Homo sapiens: one gene and its partners. The protein of the gene in region 5 interacts with the protein of the main gene of each other region in a biochemical or structural test. Each region holds a gene or a part of one and is shown on either strand. Other genes may lie near its edges. The genes, in order: SLC15A2, SMCHD1, CLDN3, GOLT1A, DLG3, XKR7 and GRM5.

What was found.
Region 1: the proteins of DLG3 (region 5) and SLC15A2 interact in a test that uses a peptide from one of them, tested with the Homo sapiens proteins (one large-scale study listed by IntAct).
Region 2: the proteins of DLG3 (region 5) and SMCHD1 interact in a test that uses a peptide from one of them, tested with the Homo sapiens proteins (one large-scale study listed by IntAct).
Region 3: the proteins of DLG3 (region 5) and CLDN3 interact in a test that uses a peptide from one of them, tested with the Homo sapiens proteins (one large-scale study listed by IntAct).
Region 4: the proteins of DLG3 (region 5) and GOLT1A interact in a test that uses a peptide from one of them, tested with the Homo sapiens proteins (one large-scale study listed by IntAct).
Region 6: the proteins of DLG3 (region 5) and XKR7 interact in a test that uses a peptide from one of them, tested with the Homo sapiens proteins (one large-scale study listed by IntAct).
Region 7: the proteins of DLG3 (region 5) and GRM5 interact in a test that uses a peptide from one of them, tested with the Homo sapiens proteins (one large-scale study listed by IntAct).

Annotation. Positions count from the first base shown.
Region 1 is NC_000003.12:121,939,401-121,942,044, reverse strand, and holds part of SLC15A2 (solute carrier family 15 member 2), read right to left. Parts: coding exon 2,550-2,644; intron 1,662-2,549; coding exon 1,557-1,661; intron 1,215-1,556; coding exon 1,038-1,214; 3' UTR 1-1,037. UniProt on the Homo sapiens protein: Proton-coupled amino-acid transporter that transports oligopeptides of 2 to 4 amino acids with a preference for dipeptides. Transports neutral and anionic dipeptides with a proton to peptide stoichiometry of 2:1 or 3:1.
Region 2 is NC_000018.10:2,802,122-2,805,517, reverse strand, and holds the end of SMCHD1 (structural maintenance of chromosomes flexible hinge domain-containing protein 1), read right to left. Parts: intron 2,991-3,396; coding exon 2,966-2,990; coding exon of another isoform or gene 2,883-2,965; 3' UTR 501-2,882; downstream 1-500. UniProt on the Homo sapiens protein: Non-canonical member of the structural maintenance of chromosomes (SMC) protein family that plays a key role in epigenetic silencing by regulating chromatin architecture.
Region 3 is NC_000007.14:73,768,497-73,771,541, forward strand, and holds CLDN3 (claudin-3), read right to left. Parts: upstream 1,775-3,045; 5' UTR 1,554-1,774; coding exon 891-1,553; 3' UTR 501-890; downstream 1-500. UniProt on the Homo sapiens protein: Barrier-forming claudin. Plays a major role in tight junction-specific obliteration of the intercellular space, through calcium-independent cell-adhesion activity.
Region 4 is NC_000001.11:204,197,663-204,200,825, forward strand, and holds the end of GOLT1A (vesicle transport protein GOT1A), read right to left. Parts: intron 1,597-3,163; coding exon 1,533-1,596; intron 835-1,532; coding exon 796-834; 3' UTR 677-795; coding exon of another isoform or gene 644-676; 3' UTR 501-643; downstream 1-500. UniProt on the Homo sapiens protein: May be involved in fusion of ER-derived transport vesicles with the Golgi complex.
Region 5 is NC_000023.11:70,496,835-70,500,334, reverse strand, and holds part of DLG3 (disks large homolog 3), read right to left. Parts: intron 3,156-3,500; coding exon of another isoform or gene 3,114-3,155; intron 1,816-3,113; coding exon 1,765-1,815; intron 1,160-1,764; coding exon 1,058-1,159; intron 459-1,057; coding exon 286-458; intron 1-285. UniProt on the Homo sapiens protein: Required for learning most likely through its role in synaptic plasticity following NMDA receptor signaling.
Region 6 is NC_000020.11:31,971,151-31,974,650, reverse strand, and holds part of XKR7 (XK-related protein 7), read right to left. Parts: intron 1-3,500.
Region 7 is NC_000011.10:88,504,142-88,507,062, forward strand, and holds the end of GRM5 (metabotropic glutamate receptor 5 isoform a precursor), read right to left. Parts: 3' UTR 501-2,921; downstream 1-500. UniProt on the Homo sapiens protein: G-protein coupled receptor for glutamate. Ligand binding causes a conformation change that triggers signaling via guanine nucleotide-binding proteins (G proteins) and modulates the activity of down-stream effectors.

The DNA of each region.
Region 1 (2,644 bases), on a different chromosome or scaffold from region 5:
AAAGTAAATCAGGAAAACAACATCAAAAAGGAACTACTTTGATATTTTTGAGGCTAAATGGAAACATTAATAAAGGAAGTTGGACTTATAGAAACATTGTTGTTATTGAATATTTGCTGCAATAAGCAAGACAAGGTGTAATAATAAGAAAAAGCTGGATCAGCAAGGTTGACAAGACAAGGTTGCAAATTATAATTATTGTTTATACAACTGTTCACTGAAGGGCATAGACCAGCGCCATAGAGGCTAAGAAGAATGTACTCTGTAAAAGAATGACTGGCTCTTCAGGATTTCTACAACTTACACCTGTTCCTGTTCTCCAGAACAATGTTTACTAATGCTTACTATCTCTAATCTGGTTTCCATGATCTATCCATACTGAGAAAGGAGGGTTTGGATAAGTAAATAAAATACTATCATAATCAGAGAGATATAACTTCTCCTGTGTTTTAATAAAATGGCATTCTGCTTCCTACCATCTATATTGACAAATTTACTAAAGTCATATCAAACCTAGAGAGCTGACAAGCCAGGCCCTGGCTGGACCAGATCACATCATACATACCAATTCTTGAGGCCCCTGTGAATAGCATAATTACATTGCTTATAAAAAAAAAAACTTGAAATACCATTTCTTTGTTATTCTGCAATTTTGCCTCTAAATCAGCACCTCAAAAATTAGGGCCATCAGTCCTAAATGGCAGTTACCTATAAAGGAATTCCCATAACTTTGCATACCCACAGAGAATGATCTCCATTATACGTGTGTATTTTCATGGTCATTTGGAGACACCAGGCCAGCTCCAGCAACACTGCACAAGTTTTAATGAGTTCACTGATGGACGGGCAGACATAGAGTCTCTGGGGCCTTGTTTAAAGATGTACTGGAAAACCAGTCCTGGAACTTCTGTCATTGGAGAAAGGTGGAGGAGATCAGCTCTGATATGCTGCTATCTCTCTTGTCTAATCCAGTAGAAGAAAAAAAATGCTTCAAGACAGGGCCAGGAATTGGGGTCAGGACAGAATCTAGGGAGTCATCAGAGTTTTGTCTTCTTGGTCTCTAGTTTGATCATGTTCCCCTGGATGTGAGGAATGTGCTTATCTGCTGGACCCCGCATATCCTCTGTCTTTACAGGAACATAGTAGTAGCCCATGATGGAGAAGATCAGGCAGATCACCAGCAGGAGGCAGGAAAACAAAATGAATTCGGCCCACTGCAGGGGGAAATAAATATGAGAAGAATATGGAGAAACCTGAAACTAAAGAGATCTTTACAGGATGAGGAGTGGGGAGCAGACTGACCTGGGATCACCAGTTTAACCAGACTTTTGCTGGACAAAGACTGGGTTCACTGGCCTCTCCTCACATAGGTATATTGTAGTCATTATTGCCACTTACATATGTCTATTTTCCTGGTAAAGTCTGTATATCTAACCCATTTCATGTCACAGCACTGAATGGGGAATGTGGGAAGCAGAGAGATGGGGGAAAGGGAGAAGAGAAAGCTGGAGGAAAAACTTGAGTAGAAATGAATCCTGCTTCCCTCAGATCCATACCTGTACCAGGCCACTGAACTGTGCCACAACAAGCACGATGATATTCCCAACTGCAATTGTCAATAGCCAAGCTGCCTGGAGCACAGATTTCATGCTAGAGGGAGCCTGGGGATGACACAAGTTTGAAAGTAAACAAACCCCCTTCACTGCCCTCATGCCCCATGCATCCAGGAAACTTCTCCCACAAAAGCTTCCAAGTTAGAACTTCTCTTATTAAGTTCAGCTATCACATTGATTCAGAGGGTGTTAATAATGTAAACAGTAAGAATAAGATGAAGCTCCTAACTGAATATATTTAAACTCATTATGTCATATAATCTTCATTACAATCCTAAGAGATAAGTTCTATTCGTATTCTTATACATTTAAAAAATAGTATTACAGACTGGGCGCAGTAGCTCAAGCCTGTAATCCTAGCACTTTGGGAGGCCAAGGTGGGCAGATCATCCAAGGTCAGGAGTTAGAGATCAGCCTGGCCAACATGGTGAAACCCTGTCTCTACTAAAAATACAAAAATTAGCCAGGAATGGTGGTGTGCGCCTATAATCCCAGCTACTCAAGAGGCTGAGGCAGGAGAATCGCTTGAGCCGGGGAGGCAGATGGAGTCTCGCTCTGTCGCTCAGGCTGGAATGCAGTGAGCTGAGATCGCGCCACTGCACTCCAGCCTGGGCGACAGCATTACAGAGATAGTAATTTACTTGCTCAAGGTTACACAATAGGTCATGCAGCCAAAATTTGAACACGGGAAGTCTGACTCTGCAGCTCTTCATTTTAATCTTTAATCTCTTTCCTAGAACCCCAAAATCATAGACTCCCATGCTGTACTGTCATGACCTGGGGAGTTAAGATGTTCAGGTCATATATGTTCAGGGTCATAAATAAGGTACCCAAGGCCAAAAGAGATAACATACCTATTTAAGTCAGTGCTAGAATTAAAATTCATTGTCCTTCAAGCAATGCCTCAATTTCTACCTTCTATTTGCAAAAACTTACCTGAGAATAAGAAAACTCAAGACCTGTGACAGAGAACATGACCTCCCCAGCTGTAACCAGGGCATATTGTGGTAGCTGCCACGCAATGGACATTT
Region 2 (3,396 bases), on a different chromosome or scaffold from region 5:
GAAGTGAGTAGTCAGTCTTGGTTCAAACTACCACAGATTCTCATCTTCCTTACTGAATTTTTGTAAATGTTCTTGAATAGATGTTTCTTCATTGCCATTTGTCCTCAGGACCATTTCCAGAAGTTTTAAATGGTTGTTTTTAATATTTTTCACCAGTTTCACAGTATGAAAATTAAACATTCAATTTTTTTACTAAAATGTATTATTTGAAAATTCTATACTAAAAATACAATGGAATTAACCCCATCAATTTCATAATGACTATAAAGTAATCAAGTCACAGAGCCAAAGTATAGACAGTTTAGAAGACTGAACTTTCCTTAGCACTAATATTTAACAATAGGAGCCAATTTCACTTAAAATAATCTGAATGTTATATATGCAACAAATTTTAGTCTCTGTAAAGAATCTTATACCAAAAACCCTATAAAAATGTTAAGTAAATTGAGCCTATTTTTACCATAGGCCTGGCCAAATGTACACATGAAAACTGATGAACGTAATGTGCAAAAAGGCTTGGAGAGAGTTTTATTTCAGTTACTTCAAAATACAAGTAGGCTATTATTTTCCTTTGGAAGAAGAAACCAGAAAAAAAACTTCCTGATTGTAACATTGTGACAAATTTCAGATTATATAACACATAACACAGGATAAATGGCTGTAGCATTAATTTTTTTCTCCAGTTACATTCCTTTATACTAAAAGACTAGTATTAAATCTTAGAAGAAAATTTCAATTGTTCTTACGTGTTACATATTAAACACAAAAGCAATTTATTATTATTTGGTACAACATGAACCTCAGTATTTGCTCAAATGTAGAAAAGGATTCCTTAATATGCTGAGAAATATCCTTAGATAAATCCAACTGTGAAAATATAGAAAAACTCCTTACTGTAATTACTGGGAACCACAAAGTTAATTTTTACAGGGTAGAAAAACTCCACAAAAATGGAGATTCATACTTAAAAACCTTCTTTTACTGATAGAACATTCTTTCTGGTATTATAAAATGAACAAAAGTGTACAGATATGGGCTTGGGGCTAGATAATATCCATAGAACTCGCCATTTTAAGCAATAAAAATTGGCATGTGGGTGCATGCCTGTAATCCCTGCTACTTAGGAGGCCAAGGCAGGAAGACTGCTTGAACCCAGGAGTTCAAGACTAGCCTGGGCAATGTAGTGAGGCCACTGTCGCTCAAGGGAAAAAAAGACATGTTTTTAAACACACTTCTAATAAAAAGAATTTTTAAAACCAACTTTTTTGCTTCTAGATAGTCTCAATGCCTTGGATTTAAAACATGACTCCTTCTTGATACAATGAATTATAAAAGCAAACTAGTTCCACATATTAATTATACGTTCAAGTCTAGTTCCTAAAAAGTCATTTCTCTTTAACCTTTCTTACCTATCAATCAATCATTTTCATATAATCTAATGTCTAAGGACTCCAAATATTGGTACGGGGTGAGTATCCCTAATCTAAAAGTCAGAAACAAGAAATGTTCCAAAATTCAAAACATTTGAGCGCAGATATGACACATAAGGGAAATGCTCATTGAAGCATTTCCAATTTCTAATGAAAGATTTTTGGATTAGGGATGCTAAATTGGTAAATATAATGCAAATATTCCAAAATAATAATTTAAAAACCCCACAAAAAACCAAAATCCAAAACACTTCAGGTCCCAACCATTTTGAATAAGGGATACTCAACCTGTAGTACCATGGGAGCCAATCTTCCCCACAGCTAATTCTGTAATTACCATTTTGTTTCTTCTGTAACAACAAACAGTTTAAATAATTTCCAATTATAAAGATAGATAGGTTAACATCATCATCGTTTTTTAACAAGATAACTTTTATGAAGCTTCCAATTTTAAAAAAGAAAAACACTTATCTATTCAGTAGGGAAGAAACAATCTTATTTATTAATGGCCTGCATATTTAGAAAGGGTTTAAAAACACATACATTTCCTGGGACACAAACTTACTTACCAAATGTATGTCCTTACAAAATAACTTCACAGATCAATAGTCTTGAACTTACACAAAGACATATATATGACATACATTAGGTTAATATACATTTCAAATGTTTTTGCAGCAACTTTCTACCAGAAAGTACACTAATGTGAGAATGTATGTTCTCTTTAACCCCTTAAAAATAGTAATAAAAAATTACAAAATAATGTAAATGTAAAATTAAGGCTGAGACTACATATTCTAGTATTAATAAAGTCAAACAAACAATAGTTATAAAACTTGGTGCTGCTGAATATTTTATATATATATATTTATATATATATATATATATACACACACACACACACACAGGATAAGTCTTTTGAAATTTGAAATGCTACCACTGTCACAAGTTCACTCATTGATTTAATGTTGTTCTGGGTATCTTAACATTTCAATTCCCAAATACCTGTGCTTTTAAAATTTTTATCCTGAATTCTGCATTGAGTTTCCTCACATATTTACAATTAAACATCTAGCCTCTAGAACCTCCCTTACACAAAAGACAAAACATCTTTGTTAAATAAATTCACGCAAAAGTAATAAAAAGGTTTTCAAGAAATAGTTCTGACATGTTCATTATATTTATACTGAAAAATAGTACATGTACTTTTCTTCAGGATTAATAAATGCCATGTGCCAGTTTTACAGTCACTGCCACATTAGCACATTTTCCTCTTACACATTTGCAAGGTAGTGACAACCAAAGGGCATAATGTCTGGAATAATTCCAGTAAATCCATAATGTCCAGTAAGATTCATAAAATTGAATGGTTGTTTCCAGTCCCATCTGAATCGAAATGGAAATTCATGCCCAGGTACTTGTATTGTCCCCAGAAATACTCAGTCTGGTAAGTCACCCTCTTGGTCTTCTGAAACAGAGATGCAGAAAGCAGGGCATTCTTACTGAGACCAATGGCCTCTTCTCTCTGTCACCTCTCATACATCTGTTTTGGTTATAATCCTGGTCAAAGGGGAAAGAAAAAAAAGTTTTATGTACCAAAGGTTTCCTTTCCCTGAATTCCCTCATCACACCTGAATGCTTAAATATCCAATGAAACCATATTCTTTTAAATATAATTCTTGGTATAAACAGATTTAATTAAATCCTTATATATAATCATTTCCTTCACATGTATGCAAAACAAGCCCCCAAATAAAAGTAGTTAACACACACACAGTATATAACATATATAAGTAATTTGTATCACAGTGCTTTGAAATGGTATTATCTCAGACCTAAATTCTGCAGATTTTTCCTTTCACCCCCTTTTCCTTAAATGAACTTATTATTTTAAGAACAGGAATTATAATGCTTATTACAGAAAAGTAACAAAGACAAGCAAAATAAAACATTTAATATTCATAAT
Region 3 (3,045 bases), on a different chromosome or scaffold from region 5:
GGGTCCCAGGAAGGAGATGGGGACCCTTTCTCATCTCTCCCCCAGGTGAGAAGATTTGGCCCGGTTTTACTTTTGGTGGCGTGTTTTATCCAAACAATAGGTCTTTTTGTTTTCGTTTTTCCAATAGGAAATGGCAGTACGGAATGCGCTCTTTCACAAGGCGCACGGGAGATTCCGAATGTGTCGGGTATTGTGCGGGGTCCGGGCTCCCAGCACAGACCCAGGGGCACATCTCTGCCACCTTCCCCTCCCATCCCCAGCCATGGCGTGCGGAAAGTGCTCATGCCTGCTTCCTAGATTGGGCGCTGGCTTTGGCCTCACAGGCTGTCTTCCGAATCCCCAGGGAGTGGGCAAGTGACCACCCCGCCATCACCAAGCTCAGCTTACAACCCCATCTTCCCTCTAAGCTCCATCCGGGAGAGCGAGATCCAGCCAAGGCCGCCCCGAGGGGGAGCTCTGCAGGGAGGTGGAGGCGCTGGGAACAAGGAGGCTCCAGCGAGTGCAAAACGAAAGGCTTTTATTGAAAAATATCAAGTGCCCCTTCCAGGGCTGCCGGTCCCTGCCCAGCGCGAGCATGGGGGCAGCGGCCCGATGGGGCTCGACGGGGTGGTCAAGTATTGGCGGTCACCCAGGCCCCGTGCTCCAGAAGGGTGAGGTTTCACAGTCCATGCAGGTTGGTCCCTGGGCCCCGAAGTCGACTGCCCGGCCCGCAAAGCCGTGGCTGCTGGGGAAGCTGCCCCAGTCCAGCGCGGGGGCTTCCTGGCTTCTGGGGGTGGGCTGGCCTCCGAGGCAAGGCTGCACGCTGGATGGCCTGGTGCGCGCTCCAGCTCGCGGTGGTGGTGGTGGTGTTGGTGGTGGTGGTGGTGGTGGGGTCTCCCTGCGTCTGTCCCTTAGACGTAGTCCTTGCGGTCGTAGCCTGTGCCCAGGCTGGCTCCCGGGCCGGTGGAGCGCGGCGCGGAGTAGACGACCTTGGTGGCCGTGTACTTCTTCTCGCGTGGGGGACACGAGCAGCAGAGCAGCGCGCCCCCCAGCAGCTGCAGCGCCGCGGCCGCCCAGCCCACGTACAGGCCCGCGCCCATCTCGCGCTTCTGCGCCTCGGGCACCACGGGGTTGTAGAAGTCCCGGATAATGGTGTTGGCCGACCAGGACACCGGCACGAGGGTGAGCAGGGCGGCGAGAAGGAACAGCACGCCTGCCACGATGGTGATCTTGGCCTTGGCCGTGTCGTCCTGCACGCAGTTGGTGCACTGGGCGCCCACCAGCGCCACTAGCAGCCCGAAGGCGGCCAGCAGGATGGCCACCACGATGAGGGCGCGGGCCGCCTGAAGGTCCTGTGGCAGTGCCAGCAGCGAGTCGTACACCTTGCACTGCATCTGGCCGGTGCTCTGCACCACGCAGTTCATCCACAGGCCCTCCCAGATGTTCTGCGACGTGATGATGTTGCTGCCGATGAAGGCCGACACGCGCCACATGGGCAACGCGCAGCACACGATGGTGCCCAGCCAGCCCAGCACGGCCAGCGCGGTGCCCGTGATCTCCAGGCCCATGGACATGGCTGCCGCGGCAAGGCCCGCTCCACCGGGTGGCTCCGGGTGCGGGGAGACGAGGGGCCGGGGCCGCTGGGCCTGGCGGGAGCTGCGGCGCCCCGACGGACGGACGGACGGACGGACTGACTCACCGACGGCGCGCGCTAACGGCTCGGCTCCATACGCTCTCGCCGCGGCTGCGCCTGCACCTGCCTGTGGCTTTGTGGGCGGGCGGCGGCGACTGGGCTGGCCCTGGGCTGGGGCCGGTGCGTCTTAGCTAAGTGCCCAGCGCTCCGGTGGGGGCGGTAGGGGCGGAGCCGCGCTCTCCAGGGCCTAAGGACAGTGACGTGGCCCCTGCCTCCCACCTTCACCGAGCGTCCTGGGAGGAAGGACTTGGCCCTGCGCGGCCCACAACGCCGGGGTAGGGGGGTTGCCAAGGAAGGGCGGGACCTGACCCAGCCCCCGCCCCTCGGTCCTTGTCCCTCTCTGCTCGGGAATGAATTCTCCGGGGCAAAACCGAGGACGGGATGCGTCAGGGGCTTGGGGTGCAAATCCCAAAGAATTTGACACGGCTTCTCTCTCCTCACCACTTTGGGCGCTTTTGGCACGTGCCGCGTGGGGATGGGGGCGCTGCCAATTACCCCGGAACGGCGGGGCGGGGAGGACCAGGGTGGGCGTGGCCGCGGCTGTTTGCAGGAGCCGCGCACCTGCTGCTCTGCCCCTCCCGTACACACGTCGCACAGGCTCAGCCTGAGTCCGGGCGGTGGGGTTGTCCAGCCCAGGAATTGCTGGGCCCAGAAGCCAGGGACTGCCTGCGCAAAGGTACCCAAAAGATGCCCTTAAGCCTAACTAAGCTCAAATTCCTCTCCAGCTCTCCCTCCAGTTCCCATCGCTGGCCGTGAGCCTGCATGCCTTTAGCTAAGCTGCTCTCCCCTCCCAGAAGTCCCCCTCCTCCCATTGAGTCCCCTCCCCTCTCCGAGCCCTGTCCTCCCTCCCTTTGAGCCTGAGTCAGGGCTGAGGCCCACCTTAATGAAATGGTGGTGAAAGAGGTTCGATCTCCGCAAAAGTGGGAAATCGGGCAGGACCGAGCACCGTGGTGGCTGACTCCTGTAATCCTCGCACTTTGGGAGGCTGAGAAGGGAGGATTGCTTGAGACCAGGAGTTCGACACCAGCCTGGGCAAAATAGTGAGACCCCGTCTCTACAAAAAATTAAAAAACTAGCCAGGTGTGGTGGCGTGTGCCTATAGTCCCAACTACTCCGGAGGCTCAGGCAGGAAATTACTTGAGCCCAGGAGTTCGAGGCTGCAGTGAGCTATGATCGCACCACTGCACTCCAGCCTGGGCATCAGAGCAGACCCTGTTTAAAAAAAAAAAAAAAAAAAAAAAAAAAGGTTGGGAAGTCAGAAATGCTACACTCAAAGCCCTGGCTGTCACACCTGGACGATCGTTCCCCCTTCTTCACCAAGCTCAGAGCCCTTCAGATTTGGCCTTGGAGGTTCAGCCTGGGCTGTTCCTAAC
Region 4 (3,163 bases), on a different chromosome or scaffold from region 5:
TTAACAGGGGATTGCAAACATATTATTATCACACCCATTAGGGCTGTTAAACACCAGGACAGAAATGATAGCCTATGAGGACAGCACTGACCCTCATAGACCAAAACTTCGCTGTGGGGATGATGTGTACGTTGGCCTGTCCTGAAGCAGGAGGTGGTCTTAATGGGCTGAAGACGCTAACTTTTTTTTTTTTGAGACGGAGTCTGGCTTTGTCACCCAGGCTGGAATCCAGTGGTGCGATCTCAGCTCACTGCAACCTCCGCCTCCTGGGTTCAAGCGATCCTCCTGCCTCAGCCTTTTGAGTAGCTGGAACTACAGGCACCTGCCACCACGCCCCGCTAATTTTTGTATTTTTAGTAGAGACGGGGTTTCACCATGTTGGCCAGGCTGGTCTCGAAGTTCTGACCTCAGGTGATCTGCCCACCTCAGCCTCCCAAAGTGCTGGGATTATAGGTGTGAGCCACCGCGCCCGGCCAAAGACGCCAACTCTGAGCCTTAGACACACGCACAACTTGGGAATTTAATCTTCACTTTTCCTCCCATAAATATAGAGTGAGGGTGTGATACCAGCCCCAGCCCAGTCTCCTTGGGGTCTGCATCTCTGCTTCCTGGCAGCCTCTTGAGTCGACTTGGGGATTTGACGTCAGTTGCTCAGCTCCATTCCTTCCTTCTGGACTTGGGGAGGTCCGGATATGTCGGGGAGTGAGTCAGTGCAGGGGACTGAGGGGGTGGTTCCCATTCTCCCTCTAGCCCCCTCAACCAATGATCCAAGTTCAAGGAGCTCATCTCTGTTTTTCAGACCATCGAGCTAGTGCCTTGAAGTCTCCGGAACAGCTGTGGGAGCCAAGAATCATTACTCCACACAAAGGGTAGAGAGCAGATGCAATATCTAGTTATTACAGAGCTGGCCTTGAGAGCCAGGAGCTGTGCCAGGCGCAGATACGAGAGGGGCTGTAGGGGCTGTGTCCAGCTGGCGGTTGTGGTGGGGTGCTGGCTGTAGGGTCTCCCTGGGCTCCTCAGAGAGCTCACATTCTGCCAGGTGCTTCAGAGAAAGGGATAAGGAGGGGCAGGGGCTGGATACCAGTGGCTGTGCCTATCCCCAGGAGAGGACAAAATCTGCCACCTGCAGGACAGCTTTTCCTGCTGTCATCAGCTGTCATACATTCTCTCCATGCCTGGGGCCCGCACTTAGCCAGATCCCCAGAAATCTCAGGCATGTCCTGGCTGAGTCACCTAGAGTCTCTGCGTCTTCATTTCTTTGGCTGTAAACAGGAAGCTATTCATAGCTACCTGCCTCTACAGCCACACTCAGCTACAACTGCGTCTGGATCCCCTCTCCTCATGGGCTCTTGTCAAATGGAGAAGGTGCGGGGGGAAGAGGAGCCTAAAGCACCAAACCTGGGCTAGGGGGTCTGAGGGGAGACAGGGGAGAGGCCACTGCCCCTGGGGCAGCAGTTTTACCAGCTCCCCTCCGTGTGCTCCCCCTCACTCCCCAGGGTACGCCCGCAGGGCTGCAGGCATCATCTGCTTACCGCACCCAGGAAGGGGATGTTGCAGACATTGCCCAGGAAGCCGAAGGCGACAGGGAAAAAGCCCCTAGGAGCAGAGGGGAGAAGGGAGGAGTCAGTGATGGCCCAGGAAGAGAGGATAGAGGGCACGAGGCTGAGGTCCACTGAAAGGTTCAAGCTCTGGCTTCCACACACCAGGGACAGGCTTGATTCTGCACTCCTGTGTTCCGAGAGACAGTCGAGTGACATGATTAAGAATGAAGGCCCCAGGGTCACACTCCTTGGGTTCACTTCTTGGCTCTACCACTTACTGGCACCATATACACTTGGGCAAATTCCTTAACTTCTCTGAATCTCAATTTCCAGCCATAAAATGTGGCTAACAATAACAGTATCTACATCATAAGGCCACGTACAAAGAAATGCTCAGGAAGTGCTTATTTTTATTATTGTTACTCTCATGATTATGACTCTTCTGGCCTAAAGCTTTCTTCTCTTCCTGAGATCCACCTGCCCCGGGTGTCCTGGGCCCTGGGCGTCGGGGGCTGTTGGAAGCCATGCTCACCGTTACACTCCCTGGTGCCCTGGCTCCCCCAGGCACACAGCCACCCCTGCCTTTGGCAACCCTGCTCTCATCAAAGATACCCTGCCAAGGCCTGACTGCAGACACATGCGTGACCCCTCACAGGGCTTGGAGGTGCCAAGGCTGGCATGGGAAGGGATCCCGGTGTGTGGCGGATGGGAAGGGAGATTTGAAATATGGATTCTGGCTGAGCCACTTCCTTACCGTGGGCCTCAATTTTCCAAGGTTTCACTGCACTCTGAGGTCCCTGATAGCTGTAATTTGTTTGCCTCCTGTGTTACTGCACAGTGTCTTTGTCAAGGCTGACTTTCAGTTTGAACTATTGAATTTGCTGCTGTCCCACTCCACTTTCTAAGCCCTCCATAAATGCTAACTGTTGTCAGAATTTATTTATGGGTCTTCCCTACTAAATTGTAAATTCCTTAGGAACTTTCTCCTCATTCAGTGCCACATCCTCACACCTGGCCCTGTATTTGGCATGCAGTAGGTGCTTATTATATATTTGACAATTTGAATAAGCGACTGTTTGAAAATGACATATATGTGTATATATATATATATATATATGTTTTTGTTTTTTTTTTTTTGAGAGAGAGAGTCTCGGTCTGTCACCCAGGCTGGAGGCAGTGGTGTGATCTTGTCTCACTGCAACCTTCGCCCCCTGCGTTTAAGCAATTCTTGTGTCTCAGCCTCCCGAGTAGCTGGGATTACAGGCACTTGCCACCAAGCCTGGCTAATTTTTTTTTGTATTTTTAGTAGAAACAGGGTTTCACTATGTTGGCTAGTCTGTTCTCGAACTCCTGACCTCAAGTGATCCGCCTGCCTCGGCCTCCCAAAGTGCTGGGATTATAGGTGTGAGCCACTGCACCCAGCCATAAAATGACATATTTGAATATGGAATAAATAGATGGCAGGTATGCATGAGAAACTTTAAAGCCACACTTCCCAAAGTCTCTGAGGCCTAGGCCATTCAGGCTAATCAGGGGGTTTCAGGGCTGCCTTCAGCAAACGGGGGCTCCTGTGAGAACCTGGGGATTCCTGAGCCCCACACCTTTCCATGATTGCAGAAGCC
Region 5 (3,500 bases):
CCTAAGAAATTCGATCTCTGAAGTAGACAGGCCCTACTTTTTGCTCCTATTACCCAGAAAAGGCCACATCTGTCCAGGGCCCCCTATTCCCTGTTGGGTAATGCTCTGGGGTGAGTTGTATGAAGGAGACAGATAGCTTCGTCAAGGCGCTGGGAGTATGCAGATGTGCTATGGCTTTGGTCAGCAGCACTGTTGGGCAGCTCCTGTGTTGGAAGGATAAGGATCCAAGTGGAACCTTGGCATAAGCATTGGCCTCCCCTTTGAGGCCATCTCCTGTACACTTACCCTCTCTGCAACTGCCCGCACTGACTGGATGCTGGTCCCATAGAGGTTATCATTAAATTGGCCCGCCTCGATGAACTTGTTGTCCTGAATATCTTTCTCCATTTGTTCTCGGGACACCACAAAGTGGTAGTCTTGTCCATCCACCTCATTATCACGTCGAGGCCGGGTAGTATCTGAAGGAAGAAAGGAAATGCTTTGTGGCCCAGGGGCAGTGATCCGCCCCAAACCAAAAAATACTGACTGGTCCATTCTCATCTGGGTGGGTCACTGGGCCACTCCATTTTTTTTTTCAAGTAAGTGGGAGAAAACAAGCAGTTGGGAAGCGGTTTGTCTGGCCTACTTCTCTTCCAATCTCCAGGTCTCACACAGGGGGCTATTTGCTTTAGCTTAAACTGGACTAGAAAGGTGGGGTTTCCTGAGCTAAAGCATGGCAGAGGGTGCCAAACTTGGTAGAGGAGACAGTGAACCTAACAAACTGTTAATGGAGTCACATCAACACCACTTTGGCTGGGCCTCCGTATTTGTCCAATCATTCTCAACCATCACCACTGAAACTTCCCCTCAAGAGTGAGCAGCCAAGCCTGATGGCTTAATCTCTCCAACCCCATCAGCTTTTGGGGAATATATTGCCACCTACTGTTTTCCAGCGTGTCAAATGTACCCTGTCCCCAAATAGCCCTAGAATCTGATCCCAGACCTTTTCCATAAAACATTAGAGCAACAATTCCCAGGGCACCAAGCCTCACTCCTCTGGGCCTTCCTGGACTCTTACGTGGCACACAGGATCCAAATTTATGTGGAAATTCGGAGATCAGGTCATCATTGACTCGGTCCTTCATTGGGCCCAGGATGATCACAGGCCTTGCATAGTGAACTAGAGAGGGAGAGCATCGAGACAGTGAACAGAGGCCCCCACCAGACAGCCTGTCCTACCCCTGAGTCTGGCTAGAACACAGAGGCTCTGGAGCAGAGACTCAGACAGGGTAAAGCATCCTCAGACATTGTCTGGCTTTTAAACAGAAAGACATCAAAGAGCCTTTAATTTGAGAATATCTAAGTTCAAGGCAAGTCTGAAACCGGAAGCTGCTCCCCTTCTAACAGAGTCAGAAAAAATCTCTGCACTGACACCAGTAACTGAGCAAGGTTTTTGCAGAGCAGCCACTGAAGGGAAGAACCTGGACCTCTCTTTTAGCAGTGGCTACATCTACTGAAATAGACTTTCCTTGTAAATTTGCCCCCTCCTTTGGAAGGTGTCCTGGCAGCAGGCAAAGGCACAGAGAGAAGTGCACACTGGATGCACCCCCTTCCCTATGACACTAGGAAGAAGCATAGAGAAGAAGGAGCCCAGGGGCTGGATGTGCCATGAGTCAAGCCTTCCTCCTCCTCCAGGTCCCTCCCTCTGCTGCCACAGCCACCCACTGTATTGAGCCCCACGACCAGGAGACCAGCACGAAGACAAGGCTCTCAGAGGAGGCTTACTTTCTTGCCGTGTCACTGGCTCATATGACAAAATAGCATCCTCTTGTCCTTCTGCAACAAAAAAGAGAGATAGGTTAGCACCATATGATCTGCCTCCTTCTGTACAGTACTCCCCGTACCCCTCCCCTGCCAGGACACAGCCTTATCAGGTGGTCCTTGCCACCACCTGTGATCCTTTCTGTTTTCTGCTGGTGAGAAAGCACATGAAACCCTTCACTGGCTCTGAGACAGGAGTCAGCAGTTCTCTTGTTCAGTGAAATATCACTGGGCAAAGGGCCAAGGCCCAGAAGCCATGAAGCCTCCACCCCAAACCACCCCAATTTGTGAGGAACTCTTCTTGTAGGTAACAAGTCAGCTGTGTGCAGTAGCCCCCTTGCTCTGGTAAGAATGACAGGGACACTTTGACTGGTTGAGATGCTTGCCCGAGTCCCCTTCATCAACATGCAGGGGAGTCAGGGCACACACCCAGGTCCCCAAGCAGCCTAACTTTGCCCTTTTAAAGGTCTACCAACCCACCTCCTGCATTGGAAGCAGCATCCAGAAAAGTGGCACATGGCTCTGCTAAGGTCCCCAGTGCCCTTTAAGAGCAATGCTGAACCTGCTGTCTCTTCCTGGTGGAGCCCCATGTCGAGCCTAGCAATGTTGAGGTTTTCCTAAAACAGTCGTCAAGCCACTCGGTGCTGGGTGCCTGGAGGTCCCAAAGTGGCTGATGGCAGTCCCAGGGAAAACAGTGATATTTGCATCAAGGCACACAATGCTTGCTAAAAGGCTTCTTCTGAGCCTAATATTCCTGGGCAGATTTTACAAGGCTTCTAGCCACCATAGCTCCTGAAAAACCAGTGCTCCCAAAGTTCATGAGGTTTGAATTACGGTTTCTCTGGTCTGGTCACAGGATCTCCCAAGGAGAACTTGGCAATTACCTCATCCTTTAACTGGCCCCAAAGGCAAAGAGGTCCTAATGACCTGGAAAGGCAGATTTAGGGCAGTGTCCTAGAGGAGCCATTTTTCTTTTGGTCTCTGAGCAAATCTATAAACCTGGCAGCACCTATGGCCCACAGTACCCATGGCAGGGATTTACTCTTTGGCAGTTTACCCTTCCCAGTGCCAGGGATGCTTTTAAGTCAGGTCCCGGCCAGCACTATAGGGCTTATACTCTCCTTTAATCCATGGGGTGAACCCCAACCCATAAGGAGAATGAACTGGCCACAGCATTTCTAGGATCTCAAAGTGTACATGGCTAAAAGAAGCACCAGCCTCTGAGCAGCAATGGCAGCTGTGCAACACTGGAATGAGGATGGCTGGGATACACAGTGGAGCTACACGACATGGAAGGAATGACACACACTTACTGGAACTGCTTTCGCTGTCACTGGTGTTGGATGTCACTCCCTCTGCAAGCCAACAAGAAAGAGACTCCAATTCAGAACACACCACTGAGAGGTCACATGCAGCACAAAACTCAAATGCTCCAGGAGCGAGACACTGAGCTGCCAACTGAGTCAGGCCACCAGAGGCCTGCCACATCCAGGCTACCAACTGGGAGGCACAGCTCCAATCCTGAGCCCCTGGCCCTCTCGTACTTGTCCCCAGAGCCCTCTTGGTCTGCCAAGTCCCTCCCTATGTACTACAAGCCATACTTCCTTCAGCAGCATCCTCTTCATCTGAATCAAATTGACCTGGATGGTTTCCAAATCGTATTTCAAAATGCATCTCCCAAGGCTAACAACAGGAAAGAA
Region 6 (3,500 bases), on a different chromosome or scaffold from region 5:
CCTGTTTTACAAATAACAATGTCTAATTATCATTGTTGAGAACTTCCTATGTTCCAGGCACTGTGCTGAACACTAAACATTATTTAATTTTCTACTACCTCAAGCACCATGCGATAGGTGCTATTATTAGAGTGTCCATTTAGCAGATGAGAAAATCAAGGCACAGACAAGTCATGCCACTTGCCCCAAATCACAGAAAGTGGCAGGTGCAGGATATGGCTGATTCCAGAGAGTGGATGCTGAACCATTAACTCTGGCCCCAGTGGAGAGACTGAGGACCAAAGAAGGAAAGAGGTCGCATTAGCTCAGCCTGAAGCAGACCCCCATCCCTGTTGCTACAGTTTGATCCAGTCTCCATTGTCTCTCTCCTGCATCTTTGTAGCAGCCTCCTCATGCATCTCCAGGCTTACTCTGCCTCCCTCCAGTCTATTCTCTCTCTTTTTTATGCTTTTTCTCTTGAGATGGAGTCTTGCTCTGTCACCCAGGCTGGAGTGCAGTGGCTCACTCTCGGCTCACTGCAACCTCCACCTGCCAGGTTCAAGCGATTCTCCTGCCTCCGCCTCCCGAGTAGCTGGGATTACAGGTGCGCACCACCATGCCCAGCTAATTTTTGTATTTTTAGTAGAGACCGGCTTTCACCATGTTGGCCAGGATGGTCTCGATCTCTTGACCTCGTGATCCGCCTGCCTCGGCCTCCCAAAGTGCTGGGATTACAAGCGTGAGCCACTGTGCCCGGCCCCTCCAGTCTATTCCCCACCCAGCAGCCAGAGTGGACATTGCAAAACACAAGTCAAGATCATGTTCCTTCTCTGGCCAAATTATCCTGGGCTCCCCGTGTCATGAAGAGTAAAAGCCCTAGTCCTTGCCATGGCCTCTGAGGCCCTGCATGACCTCGCCCCTGCCAATCTGTCCACCAGCATCTCCAAACATGCTCCCCTCACTCTATTTCTGCCACACAGGCCTTCTCCTTGCCCTTCCCTTTTCCTTTGCCTGCAAAACCCTCCCCAAGACCTCTACACAGCTTGTCCTCACCTCGTGCAGCCCTTTGCCCACATGCCACCTCCTTGGAGAGGTCCACCCTGACCACCCTATCTCAAAGAGCCACACCTCTCCCTGGCACTCCAGTAGCTCCCTGCCCTGTTTCATTTTTTTCCCCATAGCACTTATCACGATCTGGCCCAGGTATTATATATCCCATATAATATATATCATAGTTTATTTTCTTATTGGTTCCTTCATTAGGCTATTGAGCTCCAAGAGGGCAAGGACTTTGTCTTGTTCACCACTCTATTCCCAGCACTTAGAACAGTGCCTGGTATACAGCAGGTGCTTAATAAATGTCTGCTGAATGAATGACTGCAGATTAAATGAATGACTGCCATGTCATTATGGCTTCAAGGGACTTCAGGACCCCCTTGCTGTCCTGCCATGTGCTCCGTGAACAAAGCTTTGTTCCACAGGGAGCAAAGCCCAAGCTAATGCACTAATCATTGCCAGCAGTTTCTGAGCATTTAACGATGGAATGAGCCCTTTGCTGAACCCTTACACATTATCTCATTAAACCTTGAAACAACCTAAGAGGCGGGTGGGTACAATTTTGGTCCCTAGTTTACAACGGATGAGAGATTATTTGCCTTGTCAAGGTCACATATAAGAAGTAGTAAAGTCTGGATTTAAACTGAGGACACTTGAATCTAGAGTCCGTGCTCTCAACCCTCTCAACCGTTATGCCAAGAATGTAGTTTCCCAGAGGGGAAATCCAGAGCCTGACATTTCCTTCCAATAGGTCACTAACTCATTCCAGAACTTCTCTGTCATGCAGGGCTTCTTAGGTGACATAGAGTGCAGTGTCTGGGCCTATGCATAGAGAGGGCATTAGAGGGAGGGCCCCTAAATCCCAATTGCCTAATTTTCTCCCCATTTTGGGGTTCCCAGATCCCGAAAGCCTGGCAGGAATCCCATGTCAGATCGTCTCCCACTAATTGGCTTAGCAAACCATGCTTATCTGGGTGAAGCTGGGGCCCACTGAGCTCAAGATTAGGAAAAGCAGGATTCATGGCTTACTGCTCTGCTGCCTACAGGGTCAGAGGGGACAGGGTTAGGACTTTAATTAGCTTAAGAACCCTGGGCAGTTTAACAGCTCAGAGAGTTTAAAGGGAAGGGAGGGATGAAGTTGCAGGTTGGTGTCCAGGCCACAGCCAGCTTCGTGCCCCGCCAGAGGATCTGTTTGCTGTTCCCTCAGAGTTCAATCTCTCTGTGCACAAAGATATTGTTCTGGCATGTCCCAAAGTAGCCAGTGTGTGGTGTAAAAGATAGAGCTAGGTTTGGGACTGATCACCTTTCCTCACTTCCTCAGTGGGTGACTTTTGGACAAGGTTCCTTATCTGATAAATGGGTATATCAATAGTCACCAGGGGGGAGGGTTTCAGAGTAACATGAGATCACATGCCTGAAACACTCACACAGGGCCTGTGGGGACACGGTAGGTGTGCAGTGTCTGTGTATGCTTTCTCCTCCTCTCTCTCTTCAGAGCTTCATTTTATGTTTAAATTAGTAATAAAATCTTCTGTGTGAAAAGACCTTATCAATTTGAAGAGCTAAACCAGAGGTTACAAAGAAGACAGGCTAATAAATATGTTTCCTTTGGTTGACACTATTTTTAAACATTTTAATTAGTAGTTAAATTTTGGAGAGTTCACGGAAAAATCCCAATTTCCCATTTCTCTTGAGAAATCAAGACTGGGTCCACGATTTCTCATGGCATGATCAGCTGGAGCTTCCCTTTTCCTCGGACACTACTTGCCCCTGAATGTCCTCTTGTCTGACACCCCTTGTATCTTATGGTCTTATGGTCTGTTACCTGCCTGGGTCCTCAAAGCATTTGAATTTTTAATTCAGGATTTTACAAGTCTAAGAGGTTGAAAAATATCTTCATGATTATAATTATTTTATTCAGAATTGAGGAAATGGGATCAGGAGGTGAGTGACTGCCTAGCCTCCCAGGTGTGATTCTGGAGGACTCAATCACACATCTCCCTCTTCATTACCCCAGGCCCCACCACTCAGAACATCTGTGGGAACATCTCACGTGGTAAGCAAATGTGCTGGGCCAACATTGCTTAATTTCTAGGAATGCCAGCCCCTGCAGCTTCTCTATACCTTCTCTGGGTTTTCCCTCCATTTATCCAGGCCCTTAGCCATTTTAGAATCCAAAGATTTTGGGGGCAAGGGCCCAGAGGCTTTTGCTTTGGCAATAGACCCAGAGTCAGAATTTCAGGAATGGGAAACTCTTAAGGTCATCACATTGAATCTCATTTCACACACAGGGAAACCGAGACCCAAAGATGGAAAGAGCCTTGCCCAAGGTCACCCAGCAAACTATAGTTACAAACTAGGATAAAGATGTCAGCCTCCTGACCAGACCACCCCCGAATCCAGCCTTTTCCCCACAATACACACTGTTCCCGTCCTCACCCACATAGTTCAACTCCCTGCCCCTC
Region 7 (2,921 bases), on a different chromosome or scaffold from region 5:
GAGACACATGCAGATGGACTCAAAAGTCAAATGTCTATATAAATATGTATGTTTGTAAACACACATCTATACACACACAAATAATCTATTTTATCTGTGTGATGTTACCTCTATCAACACATATAATTATGAAACTATTTCTATAATTTGTATGTCTAGATGCATAAACAATGCATATTTCCTATATATTTTTTTAAGTACTTCTTTATGTAACAGTTGTTTGTAGATGTGTTTGGGGACAACATCTCTGGTTGGTTTGTGGTTGGTTTATATTTTCATTTAAATCTATACAGTCCACTGCTTACTTTGTAAACCCCATAATTCAAATGTATAGATCATCCAGTATTCAAGATTAATTAGTATCATGGCTCTTTTCATCTCAGAAAACACTATTAAGACAACATTCTAAACATTTGAGGGGAATAATCTTAAAATCATATTATAGGTTTTTTAATTTTTTTGAAAAGTAACTGGCTTCACAAACACCAAGTACAACATGATTTAGACAACTGAGAAACAGGCAAGTATATTTTGAAGTGCTAAAATAAAACATATTTATACAAGTACAAAGCAAAACAATGCTGATAAAAATGTTAAACTTTATGAAAAAAAATCATTTGCAGTTCACATCAAAATAATTTAACATTCTCTATTATTTTAATAGTACAAGCTGCCACAACAGAGAAAGAACAGATACACGCACACAATTTTAAAACCAAATCAGTTATAAGTGCAGAAAAAAGTAAGTACAAGCACTTTTAGCCCACACAAATCTTTTAGGATTGGCACCATCTTTCTAAAACATCTATAATCTATATAGATTTCTAATTACAACACCATCAGCAGCTGCCATTGATTTCTAGAAATACACACAATATACATAGTATATTTGTTCACATTGGGAAGATCAGTGAAATTCAACCAACTATTTTATACATGCCTCATTCTTCAATAGACAGTAGAGACTCTCCCAGGCCTCAGACCCTCTTCAAAGTGAATTCTGACTTGTCTTTATGCTTTCACTGATCTGTATTTTTTCACAGTATAAAATTGTAAATGGTAACTATAGAGATTCTGACAGCTTGAGGGTTATTAATAAGCTGTTGCTAAATGTGAACTCACATAATACCTTTGAAGTCTCCAAAACATGTACATTTTACTGGGAGACTAGCATAGGAAATGCTTTTGTTTTTTGTTATTCTTAAAAAGAGCATTTAATTCCTGGCTTGGAAGTCACAGAACTGCAGCAGAGCTATTATACAATTCATTTACAGTCAGAAATAGCTCCTAGTCTTCCTGATCACTTGCTGGTAACAGCAGTAGTTTGGGAAAGATAGTTACTTTCAAGGATTAGCACGTTTGGGGATTTGCTTTTTTTCCTTGCTTCAGTCAAATCTCTTATAATTTTTCTTTCCATACTCCCTTTCTGTTCCCCATCCCTAGCCCAGAAAGACGGTTCTTCCCAATCCAGATATGTTCTTCTTAGGCTGCCCCCACTCCTTTCCCAAAATGGAAGGATGAGTGGACTGCTTAGATTAGTCAGTATAACTTGGTTAAACCACGTCTTCTTCTTTCCATCCTGGGACATATCTCTCATTTAGGGTCACTTTGCTGAGCCTTAGCATATCCCCTTCCTTTTAGTCATGCTGGTCCCGACTGAATTATCACTGGGCACCAGGAACAGATTGTTTTGAAGGAAATTCAATGAGAATGTACCCAAATGAATTGTGAAGTTCATATCCTATAGCCCTAGAATGAATATTCAGTTCTCTTTGTACTGTAGAGTTATTACTTGGAACCTGGTATTAGAATTGGCAAAGAGACAGAGTTAGCATCATTCCAAAATAAAAGATCTCAAGAATGCATTACTAATAATCTTATGTCCAACATACAATGTATTCAATGGAGTGGCAAAAGTTATAGAAATACAGAGAAAAATATATCTTGTCCTTTTCTAATTGGATAAATCATTTTTATTATTACAGTTGATTATGATAGCATGTGGAAGTATCAGATGGCAATTTACTTGCATTAAATTTAATTTCTGATGAAGTTTTTTATAAGGTAGTGTGCTTTTTAAGAGATATGTTACTAAAAAAATAGAAAATGAATTTGACCATGAACAAAGTTTAAACATGTTCTTCAACTGGTCTAGAGTGAAACGTATTGTACTTGAGAATAAAATGAAAATCAACATAAGGATTTTATAAAACAAATTTTAAAATGTAGAGCATATCAAGAAAGGTTTTTAATACCTAAGAAGTCAAGATAGGAATCCTCAGGTGAATGCCATCCTTTTGATGAGGATCCAAAGGGTATTAACACCTCAAAAGATTTCCATTTGTTTTTCAGATAGAGGCAGACATTTGCTTTTAATGAAACCATGAAACTTAGCTAGATTTCACTTACATTTTAAAAGCCTCGGTGTAATATTTGGGATCAGGGTGCTGTGATGATGTTATTTTCAAATCTAGCATGGGAGGTTCGATTTCTTTTAAATTAATACTTTAGTACATTAATGTTAGCTTTTAATGTTTTGTATTGGGAGGTTTGACTTAAAGTTGCAAGTAAGAACAAATAGCAGAAAAGAAAACTCAAGCAGAATATTTATTAGAATTTTTTAAAGTGAAGAATGATAAATTATGCCAATGGACTGACTTCTATTTCTCAGTTTATTTTCTGTTAAGTAGATGTGAAATAAAAAAAAATACTTACCAAAGTAAGGATATTGAGCTAAAAGAAAAAGTTTTATTTATTATTCTCTCTGCCAAAATATACTTCTGCCTCACAGCACATATTTTTCATAAGGCTATCTTAAGTATAAGGCTGGGTCAACTGAACTTTAAATTTATAGGACACCTCCTCCATTTATTACTATCCTTATTTAAAAATCAAAACATTTGGTACCTGAGGATAGCTGC